3 linked regions of the Homo sapiens genome follow. The protein of the gene in region 1 interacts with the protein of each later gene in a pairwise test. Each region holds a gene or a part of one and is shown on either strand. Other genes may lie near its edges.

Region 1 (3,750 bases):
GCATCGTGGCAACAGCACAGAGGCTGCCTGCTGGGGGCTGGGGTTGCCAGAGGACGGTTCCACCTCCGGGGGTGCTCCAGGGGGATTGGCACCATTGCCTCTCGGCTGCTCACCAGATGCCTGTGGCACCTGGGCTGGTCTCGACATCAGTGCCAGGCTTGAGGAGGATGGGGATGGTTCCCTACAGGGAGAACATGTGGGAGAAGGCCCAGAGAAGGCTCAATGCTCCTCCCTGCCAAAATGGCGAGAAACTCATAGCACCAGGGCACTAGGAGAGAACAAGCACAAAGCCAGATAGGGCTGGGGAAAGGCCAGTTAGCCCAAAACTGGGAGTGCAAAACACCCCGCGCATGGAGAGACAGAACACTGGAGAGGAGAGGGCAGCAGCCCTGGGAGGCGAGGAGAGCCAGAGCTGCTGCTGGGGGGTAGGGGGCCTCTGTACCTGAGTGGGCGGGTCTGTACTTGCAACAGGAATCGTGAAGAGATACTCCGAGACTCTGACCTCTCTGGGACCTGCACTGGGGCCCCTACCAAGGTCAGAGAAATCATGAATTGGGGCAAAAACCAAGCCCTTGCCCCAGATTTTGCCTCCTTGAGACCCCCAGCCACAGCCTATACCCTGGGACCCTCCTCTCAGGTAGGCAAGGAGGGGAGAAGGGCAAATTGCAGGCACTAAATGCTGGCCCTCTGACCACACCTGGAGCAGCTCCACTGGCCAGAGTCTCAAAGTGCTGTTTTAGAAACTGCTCCTGGTCTGGAGTCTGGGGGCTGCCCTCCTGTAGCCCATAGGGGCCCATGCCTCCCTCCTCTTCTTCCTCTTCTTCATCACCCTCAGCTGGCTCTTCAAGGTCTGAGGAGATGCCATCCACACTGAGGGGCTCCGTGCTCTCAGAGTCTGGGTGTGGGGAGGGGAGAGAGGCATCGCACTGCACCCATCTGTTGCCAGAGCCTCCCCACCCACCTCCAGGCCCCACCCCCCATGGCCCCTCCCTCCAGGCTACAGCCTCACCTTCAGTGGGGTGCTCCGGGCTGGAAAGGCAGCTGCTGCTGTAATCCACAGAGCAGGCACTGTCAGGGCTGTGCTTTTCTGAGCTCCTGCTGCCTGGGTACACTCTTCCCAGAGTTCCCCGGGCTGGAGCCTGCACTTGGAACTCACTGTCAGGATTCCAGCAGGGAGAAGAAAAGGCAGTGAGCAGGGGTAGGCAGCAGCCCCGCTGGACTCCTGCCTGTGATCAGGGTGAGGGATGAGGCAGTGGTGAGCTGGAAGGAAAGCCCTGAGTATCCTGGGGGCCAACCCTCCCTCGACTAAAGAACACTCATAGGGAGGGGAAGACGGGGGCACGGGGTCTGGCTAGGGCAGGATCCTTGCCTGGTATCCATGGTGGGGTTGTCACTCGGCTCCGGGTAGACAATACCATCTTCAATGGGTGCAGGTTCCAGATCTTGGGCAAAGACCCCTTCCTCTTGTGACAATAATCGGATAATATGGGGATAGGAACAAGGTTGGGAAGCCTGAGGCCGAGGGGGCTTTTCATTCTGGGAACACACAAAGGGATGTTAACAGAGCAGAGGTGACAGATGAGGCAGTGGTAGCTGGGGGGTAAGCCCTGAGTATCCTGGGGGCCAACCCTCCCCTTGGAGAAGAGGTGGAGGTGAGTAAGGATGCGGTGTGCACTCATTCAAGGGGAAGCTGAAGGACAGACATCGAGAAGCCAGGCTGGGCTCCAGTTGCTGATGTGAGCTTCTGGATGAACTATATTAGCACTCTGGGCTGCCAACCTCCAGCTACCACTTAATACCAAGAGTCCTCCAAGAAACCCAGCCCAGGGCAAAGGCCACTTTTGCCTCTCTACCCCAACCCCTCCCCTGCCTATCCTGATGACCAAACCATACAGCCCAGCCACCCCCATCCTGGCTTTGCAGTTCAGGTTACCCATGTGCCACAGGGGCAGAGCAAGCATAGCTGGACCAGTGCTCAGGTCCCAGCTGGTGGCAAAGGCTGCCTAAGGCCCCTTGGAACTCTCTAGAGAGCTGGGAGAAAGCAGGCTCACCTGGCTAGTGAGTGAAGTCTCAAGGGCCTCCTGCCCATGCTTCCTGGGACCAGATGGGATGATGGCCAGCGAGTCCTGGCTAGGGTCCTGCAGGCTTGGGGCCAGTGTTTCCAGCTGCCGCAGATCCAGCATGGATCTAACGCTCAGTTCCACACCTGGCTGAACCCAGCGCCCTCTTCTTCTGGGTCCTGGGTTGGCTGCAGGAGCTGGGTCCAGGAACCCCACGGACTCCTGTGCCTGGTGGGAGGTAGGGGGTGGGGGAGGAGTAACAACAACCACACAGTAAGATCAACAAATATCCACATATCCCTTACTATGTGCCTGGCACACTACACATACTAGCTTACTTCATCCTCACAGCAACCTTTTGAAATGGGCACTAGTATAATCCTTGTTTTACAGATGAGGAGACTGAAGCACAGGGGGCTTAAGTGAGCAGTCTGCGTCCCACAGACAGTAAGTGGCCTGCAGATTAGTCTGGCTCCAGAGTTCATGCTCTTAGCTGCATTCCGCATCCTCTGGCACAGGAACCCCTAGTCTCAGCCTTCACCTGGTATCATGGATGCCTCAGAGCTGGGGGTCTCTAAAAGTCTCCTACTCTGAGGACAGCCCCAGCAGCAACCACTTACTACCAAGAGTCCCCCAAGAAATCCAGCCCAGGGCAAAGGCCACTTCTGCCTGTCTACCCCAACCACTCCTTTTGCCTCTCTACCCCAATCACTCCAATAGCTGGGGGCCCCAAAGTCCCCTCACAGCACCAAGGACAAACCTATAGCCCAGGCCTGAGACCCCTGGCCCGGTCAGGGTGCTCCAGAGACACCACAGCATCATCACTCTGTGAAACTGTTGCTGACAACGGAAGGTACTGGTGCTTGGGAACTTGCTCTGAACACCTTGATCCCCCTTTGGCCACCCCAGGGCAGTCGCTGAGTTATGGGTCCCCTCATGGCCTTTTCCCTCTAACTATTCTGGAAGTTCTCCGCTTACCTCCTAACCGGGATCTTTAGAACTGTTTCTCCAGATCTCCGCTCTTTGGATCCTTGATTTCCTGCATTTTAGTTCTAACTATCTGGCTTAGGGGTCCTTTGTCCTCTCCACCTTGAGCTCTTCTCTGATGATATTTACTTCCAGGCACCAGGCAGCTGAACAAGTGCCCCACCTCCCCAGTGCTGACTAACCCTGTGCTCCATCCACCCCAACTGGTCCACAGGAAGGAAATACCTGGGCTTTCTTCACCCCCGCACCCAGGACCAGCCCAGCTGCTTCAACTTCCCCGACAAGGCCTTCCTTGGACACACGAGTGCAGCATGTGGGCAGACCCCATGCCCCAGTACCCTACCAGGCCCAGAGAGCCCTGTTCTCACAGCTCCCTTTGCCTCCTCTAACCTTGGAAGAACATTTTAACAATGGCGACTCACCCGACTCATCTCCCAGTGGGACAGGCTTCGGGGCAAAGCTGGGCTGGGGACCGAGGCTAGACAGAAACAGGCAGTCAGAGGAAGTGTCTCCTGCCCCCCCCCCGCCACCCAACCCTGGAGCCCTGGCCCCATCAGCCCATACCCTGTGTGGCCACAGTGATGCCTCAGTTTCCTCAGCTCACACTGCTCTCACCCCACAGTCTCAGAAAAACCATATCTAGCCATTATACCAACTAGGGCCTGTCTGCCCCCACACCCAACTGCCACAGACCCAGTGCCTT
Region 2 (3,750 bases), on another chromosome or scaffold:
CACATTTCTGTAGGCTGAACAAGAAGCATGGCATCAGCATCGGCTTCTAGTGAGGGACTCAGGCCACCTCCACTCATGGTAGAAAGTGAAGGGGAGCAGGCTGTGCAGACATCACATGAAGAGAGAAGAAGCACGAGAGGGGTGAGGGAGGTGCCAGGCTCTTTTTAACAACCAGCTCTTGCAGGAACAAATAGAGAGAGACCTTAACCTCCACCCCTACCAGAGAGGGCATTAATCTATTCATGAGGTATCCTCCCCCATAACCCAAACTTCTGCTATTAGGCTCCATCTCCAACACTGGGGGTCAAATTTCAGCATGAGGTTTGGAAGGGATAAACACGCAAACTATAGCAATGCCCTATCTAAGGTGGGCAGCTGCTAATCAGGATAATGGAAGGTATGTTCAACTATGCTAGATCTTTTTATTTCAGAAGAAAATCTGAATTTCTGGAATCTTTAATAAAATCTGCCTATTTTTAAATACTAACAATTAATGACAGTATTATGAGGGAAAACATAAAGAGCTGTCCATTTTGACTCTATGTGGCTCACAGAGTACCAGATTATTATTTCTGCCCTGCACTGTGCTGCCTTTAAGGGCTACTCCACAGCACTACCTGCCTGGTGCTGCCTTCAAATACTGCTCTGCAGCATTGACTGAGCACCTGTTGTGCAGGCATCCACTTGCTCAGCTCAGGATGGGGAGGCAGCAGGCACCCATGACTCAGCAGTGCCTGTGGCTTATGGCCAGCATTTACCCTGAGTGGATTTGGGATAGTTTAAACATCATTCTTGGATGAATTTTTTTTTATTATACTTTAAGTTTTAGGGTACATATGCACAACGTGCAGGTTTGTTACATATGTATACACGTGCCATGTTGGTGTGCTGCACCCATTAACTCGTCATTTAGCATTAAGTATATCTCCTAATGCTATCCCTCCCCCCTCCCCCCACCCCACAACCGTCCCCAGTGTGTGATGTTCCCCTTCCTGTGTCCGTGTGTTCTCATTGTTCAATTCCCACCTATGAGTGAGAACACGCGGTGTTTGGTTTTTTGCCTTAATCCTCACAACAATCAGGAAGGAAGATTTAATTATCTCTCTTTTGCAGAAGAGTAATTTGATACTCAGATTGTTTATAAAGGTTGCATAGCTATAAGTACACGGCCTGGGATGTTAGACTCACCTTTGGCCCCATGGGCTCATCCTTCTATAGAGTTGCCTCTATCTTTGAAGTAACTTAAATTACTTCAGGTTAGAAAACACTTCCTCTTTTATGTCACTCTGGTAAGAATCTGAAGCAAAGTGGAAGTTGGCAGATACAATCATCTTTTAGGAGAGAAGATACCTTTGTCACTCCTCATCTCCCGACCATCAGGTCTTCTAGGGATGGAGGAGAAACTGTTAGGGCAATGAAGGAGGAAGAAAATAAGAATCTGCTATTCATAGTCCTGAGGCTTCAACACTAAGACAAGCCACTCCCACACTCTGTAGGTGACGGCAAGGGCAGGCACACAGGGAGGGAACCAGCTGCTGGAATGCCAGCCCGGTTGATGCACCAGGCGGATGCCAACCAGCTGTCTCATGGCCCAAGCCAGACCCAGAACCCTTTATATAAAGACAGCCCTCTTCCCAGATGCCTCAGCCTGAAGGACTGCTTGCCTGTGAGGAGGGTGAGTCTAGGAACTGGATCCTGGGATCGGGGTGGATGTGATGTTCAGGGGAGAGCCCAGGTTCACAGTCGTGAGGCACAAAGAAGGGAGAAGCTAGGCACCAGGGAGGGCGAGGGGTGCATTAACCTGAGGAGAAAAGTCTGGTGAGCTTTTAGGAGACAGAAGCATAGCTACAGAGTTTACGAGATGAGCTAGGGCTGTGAAGCTAGTGTATTTGCCTTTGATAACCCTGACCTTATCCTCAGGTACTATTTTCCCTCATGATCTTTCTGGAAAAGCCACATTAGCAATTTACACCTTATGAGCAAAGTTGTGTGTGGAAGGGTTACCTTCCCCAGGGAAATAGATATGTAGGTATTCTCTACAAATTGAAAATAGAAGGTTTGAACCCTCATCAGGAGCATTTGGGGAGCTTATTGAAAGACGGTTTGTTGGATGAGCCTGTTGTCAAATGATCTTGTTTTGCTGGTCAGTGGGCTGCCTGCACATAAACACGTGCATCTGACACAAGCAGACGAGTGAGGCTGCCCTGTGCTCTCCCCAGCTAAGCATGGTGTCAGGGTGTATGCCTGCAGCCCTCACGTTATGTTTGCAATGCCCCAGCTGCGTAGATCTTTAAGTATGGCAGAATGTCCGTCTTCTGATTAAGAACCTTGGACTTTCTGGCTTACTCCATCTTAGGTAACTCCACCTTGCCTCTAAGAAGAGCTGGGGAAAAACATTTCTGAGGCCTGCAGACTGTCACACTTCAGGTGATTAGCAACAGCAACCTGACTGGGCAAGTTGCCATGGTGGTCAGAGTCTTTCCAAGGCTGGTGTGTTTTGCATGGGCACACTTTGCACGTGTCATGTTTAAATGAATTTATTTCAAAACATTGTGTCATGTTTAAATGAATTTATTTCAAAACATTGTATCATGTTTAAATGAATTTATCTAAAAACATTGAATATAGAGAAACAAACATTTAATGTTGGGTTTGAGCTGCCCGCTTTCCAGTGAATGCTTTGACATTTTGTGAATGCAGATGGTGCTGAGTGCTTATTCTCATATGTACGTTCTTACATGTTTGCACATTTATGTGTACTGCCAGTGCACATGTGTGAGTAAATCCAAGCTCCTGTGGGAATGGAGTTTCCACTTTGGGCTATAGCCTTAGGAGCAAGTTGTTATCTCTACTTCCTGTAGGGCTGCTCAGACCACATTGGATGTGAGAAAGTGTGGAGACGAAAGGAGAATCCTTTTGTCATCAGTGCCCTCTTTTCTGGGCATTGGTAGGTCCACCCCCAGGGAGATCCTGGACATCTGCAACCCTGGATGTGCCCTTTGACAGACCCAGGGCAGGTCTAACAGATTAATCCTGGGTCGAACTAAGTCAGGACACTTGGATGAAAGTTGAGGGTGGAGGAAGAAAAGCTAGGGAAGATGCAGGGTGTCTTCCTCTAGGTCCTGGCACCCCCTCTCCAACTCTCACCCTCCTGACCCTGGTCTCTTTGCCCTCAGGTCACTCTTGACTGGCTGCATCAGGACCATGTGTGACCAGCAGCAGATCCAGTGCCGCCTGCCGCTCCAACAGTGCTGCGTCAAGGGTCCCTCCTTCTGCTCCTCTCAATCCCCCTTTGCCCAGAGCCAAGTGGTGGTTCAAGCCCCTTGTGAGATGCAAATTGTGGACTGCCCTGCATCATGCCCAGTTCAAGTTTGCCAGGTGTCAGACCAGGCTCCATGCCAGTCTCAGACCACACAGGTGAAGTGCCAGTCTAAGACCAAGCAGGTGAAGGGCCAGGCTCAATGTCAGTCTAAGACCACCCAGGTGAAGGGCCAGGCTGCATCCCAATCTCAAACTTCCTCTGTTCAAAGCCAGGCTCCATGCCAATCTGAGGTGTCCTACGTGCAGTGCGAAGCGTCACAACCTGTTCAGACTTGCTTCGTAGAATGTGCTCCAGTTTGTTATACAGAAACTTGTTATGTAGAATGCCCAGTCCAGAACTATGTACCCTGTCCAGCTCCTCAGCCTGTCCAGATGTATAGAGGGCGTCCTGCAGTGTGCCAGCCTCAGGGAAGATTCTCCACCCAGTGC
Region 3 (3,341 bases), on another chromosome or scaffold:
CTCAAGCATCTTTTTGATGCGGATGAATTGAATGATTGGCTGGTCAGAGGCTGAGACAAAAAGATCCCTGCATTCAGGGCAGCCATTAAATGCAATCCCTGCTGCCATGTCATGCAGCTGTTGCTCACTGAGGTGTGGGAAAAAATAATTTGGGATTTTTTTGTGAATAAAAATATTATTTGCAAATATGAGAGATTATTTCTCTCATTGTTAAATAAACTCAAGTGCATGTCTTGCTAGTGCTGACTTCCAATGTCATTTCTACTATGTTGAGAGTTAAATGTAAGTGTCCTTGGGCAGAAAGAGAGGACCTCAGCTTGGATCAGAATCTGTCCTTTATTAGCTACATAACATCACATATTAATTTTTTTTCAGGTGAAAAATGAAGGTAATAATGCATGACCACCTGTTTTGAGAATCAAATTGGATAATAACTATGGTATGTGATATGTGTGTAAATCCCATATCAGGAGTGCTTTCAAATAAAACAAAACACTATATGAGATGAGGATGGTTCAGAATTTATTCAGAAACATATAGGTAAGGATTTCTGCTACCAGGGACACAACACAAATTTATCATGAAAAGAAGAAAGAAGGATACAAGAACGATGAGGAGGATATTGAAAACAAAAAAAAGATTGCAAAGATCATCGATCAGTTGCAGAAACCTAAATTCCTTAGAAGCAGGGAATGAAGCTCTTGACTTTAGAGTCAAAGCTGAGACCATGACTCAAACTTGAGAACAGATGAAGCTGGCACATGATCCACAAGGTGTAAGGAAAAAGAGAATCAGGATGAAGTATTCTGCCCTCCCTCAAGCAGATTTCCAAGATTTTAAACATGTAGAGAATTCATAAAAATTTGGGTGAGAGCATGGTGGCTGTCAGCAGCAAATTAAATTAGTCCCCCAAAAGATGAGTCAGTTGAGCAGAAATTTGTTGTGTGAGGATGGTGGTTCTCTTGGAACGTGATCAGCAGCAAGAAGGCTGGCAGCAGCTGGACACACAGGTGGGCTGGAAGCAAGTGGTCCTGCAGCAGGTGGTCTCACAGCAGGCTGGGCGGCAGCAGGGCTGGCAGCAGTTGGAGCCACAGCTCTGGTTTAGGCAACCAGGCAGGCAGACAGTCGTGGGGTAGTAGCAGGTTCTTCTGCAGTACACAGGTGCACAGGAGCTGCTCTGGCCACAGCTGGACCCACAGCTGGTTTGGCCACAGCAGCTGGACCCACAGCAGGTGGGCTGGCAGCAGGGTGTGCTGCAGCAGGAAGGCTGGCAGCAGCTGGTCACACAGGTGGGCTGGCAGCAGGTGGTCCTACAGCAGGTGTTTTGACAGCAAGTTGGGCGGCAGCAAGGCTGGCAGCAGCTGGACACACAGCAGGCGGGCTGGCAGCAGGGTGTGCTGCTGCAGGTGGTCACAGTGGTGGGCTTCCAGCAGGTGGTCCTGCAGCAGGTGGTCCTGCAGCAGGTAGGCTGACAGCAAGGGGAGCAACAGTGGGTCATGGTGTCAGGGGTGGAGGGTGGGCTTCTGTTCAGAGGTGAGTTTCCCAGAATCTGATGACCCCTTGCAATCTGGACCTTTTATACATCTGGCCTCCAAAGTTTCCACCAATCAGCAGGACTTTTCCTTGTTGTTGTTTACACTGTTTTCCATACTCCCTTTGCGATTGTCAAAGGGGAAGTTGTTTCTGAAATCTTATGAATCTTTTGAAAGTAAGGGTTTAATCTGTTTCTTAATTGAGAATTACTCATAAAAACTTTGTTTCAGATAAAAGGAAGGCAGTCTCATCACCAGCATCATTCCTGCTCTGACCATCATCTGGTCATGTGATAGTTCCTGGTGATCCGGGAAGCAGATAGTTCTCTCTGTCCAGCCTCATGGTTGACTGTATGTAGACTGGGAAATGTCTGTGGGCAGTCGCGTGATGCTGTTATGTTCACAGTGATGCATTGAATCCGTGCCCGGCACCAAGCCTATTTACCCACAAAAGTCTGATTCAAGAGTAACAAGCATCTTTCTCGCTACAAACTATTCCACCTGTGTCTTCCAGTTCTATTACACTCACTAGGGAAAGGGTGTTTGGCACAATGTATTCCAAAATGCAGAGCTAGACCAAAGCAGGTGGGTAGAAAAAGGAGTCCACTGGGATTCAGAAAGCATCGAGTGTCTCTGTGATGGTGTTGCCATTTACCCTGATTTGCCTGGGACTGAAGGGTTTACCAGCATGGGACTCTCTGTGACGTAAGTGCTCTAGATTCGGGCAAATCAAGCTGAGTTCTGGTCCTAGCTTGTTAATTCTAATACTTTTTGTATTTTTTTTTGGTGTGACAGAAAATTGCACATGTGCAGTCATGACTCATAAAAAATAGTAATAGTTTTCTTCGCTTTATAAGAGTATTTTTAATCTTGCTTTTTTTTTGGCCCTTGTCCAGGGGTAGACCCTCCAGGGCAATGTCTAATAGAATGGTGTAGTGTATATCTTTTTATATTCGTTGGATAGAAAGGAGAACTCTCAGTATTTCACAATTAATTACGATGCTTTCTGTCTTTTTTGTAGATTCATTTCATCATAGCAACAGGTCTTGTTCTATTCCTTATTTTCTGAGAGACAGAAAACTGAAAATGTACTGAAATTTACAAAATGCTTTTTCTTTATAAGCTGAAATAATGTTATGATTATTCTACCTTTTCAGTAAGTGTTGTTTTATTCTATGTTTTTTGAGACAGAGTCTTGCTTCGTCACCCAGGCTGGAGTGCAGTGGTACAATCTTGGCTCACTGCAATCTCCACCTCCCGGGTTCAAGAGATTCTCTTGCCTCAGCCTCCTGAGTAGCTGGGACTATGGGAGCACACCACCATGCCCAGCTAACTTTTGTATTTTTAATAGAGACAGAGTTTCACCATGTTGGCCAGCTGATCGCAAACTCCTGACCTCAAGAGATCCACCTGCCTCGGCTTCCCAAAATGTGTTATTTTAAAAGTTGATTAATGTTCAAATATTAGCCCAGTCTTGCATTTCTGAAAACAATTCATGTGGTTACGATCATATGTATATGCCATTGGATTTTATTTACTTATATTTTGTTTAGGATATTTACTATCATTGCATTCCAAAAATATATTCTCCTATTCTTACTCTATTTCCTCTACCTTCTCTAAGTAAAGAAATTCCGAATATAGCAAAATTCCTACCCTTCTGTGCCCAATTTGACCTTGATGTGACCCCCTGTATTGGTTTTTCTAAAGGCAATTTCATGCCCCATGAAATACTCTAGCAGTTCTATTGCAGAGTGTGGGCTTGGGGATCAACAGTTCTTTTTTCAACAGGGGCACTAGACTATCCCA

What was found.
Region 2: the proteins of MAPKBP1 (region 1) and KPRP interact in binary tests that used the Homo sapiens proteins (3 or more experiments, as listed by UniProt).
Region 3: the proteins of MAPKBP1 (region 1) and KRTAP9-2 interact in binary tests that used the Homo sapiens proteins (3 or more experiments, as listed by UniProt).

The regions. Positions count from the first base shown.
Region 1 is NC_000015.10:41,819,370-41,823,119, reverse strand, and holds part of MAPKBP1 (mitogen-activated protein kinase-binding protein 1), read right to left. Parts: coding exon 3,741-3,750; intron 3,526-3,740; coding exon 3,470-3,525; intron 2,289-3,469; coding exon 2,052-2,288; intron 1,537-2,051; coding exon 1,370-1,536; intron 1,156-1,369; coding exon 1,010-1,155; intron 896-1,009; coding exon 698-895; intron 528-697; coding exon 443-527; intron 182-442; coding exon 1-181. UniProt on the Homo sapiens protein: Negative regulator of NOD2 function. It down-regulates NOD2-induced processes such as activation of NF-kappa-B signaling, IL8 secretion and antibacterial response. Involved in JNK signaling pathway.
Region 2 is NC_000001.11:152,756,385-152,760,134, forward strand, and holds the start of KPRP (keratinocyte proline-rich protein), read left to right. Parts: upstream 1-1,640; 5' UTR 1,641-1,675; intron 1,676-2,356; exon of another isoform or gene 2,357-2,427; intron 2,428-3,176; 5' UTR 3,177-3,204; coding exon 3,205-3,750.
Region 3 is NC_000017.11:41,224,812-41,228,152, reverse strand, and holds KRTAP9-2 (keratin-associated protein 9-2), read right to left. Parts: upstream 1,506-3,341; 5' UTR 1,499-1,505; coding exon 974-1,498; 3' UTR 501-973; downstream 1-500. UniProt on the Homo sapiens protein: In the hair cortex, hair keratin intermediate filaments are embedded in an interfilamentous matrix, consisting of hair keratin-associated proteins (KRTAP), which are essential for the formation of a rigid and resistant hair shaft through their extensive disulfide bond cross-linking with abundant cysteine residues of hair keratins.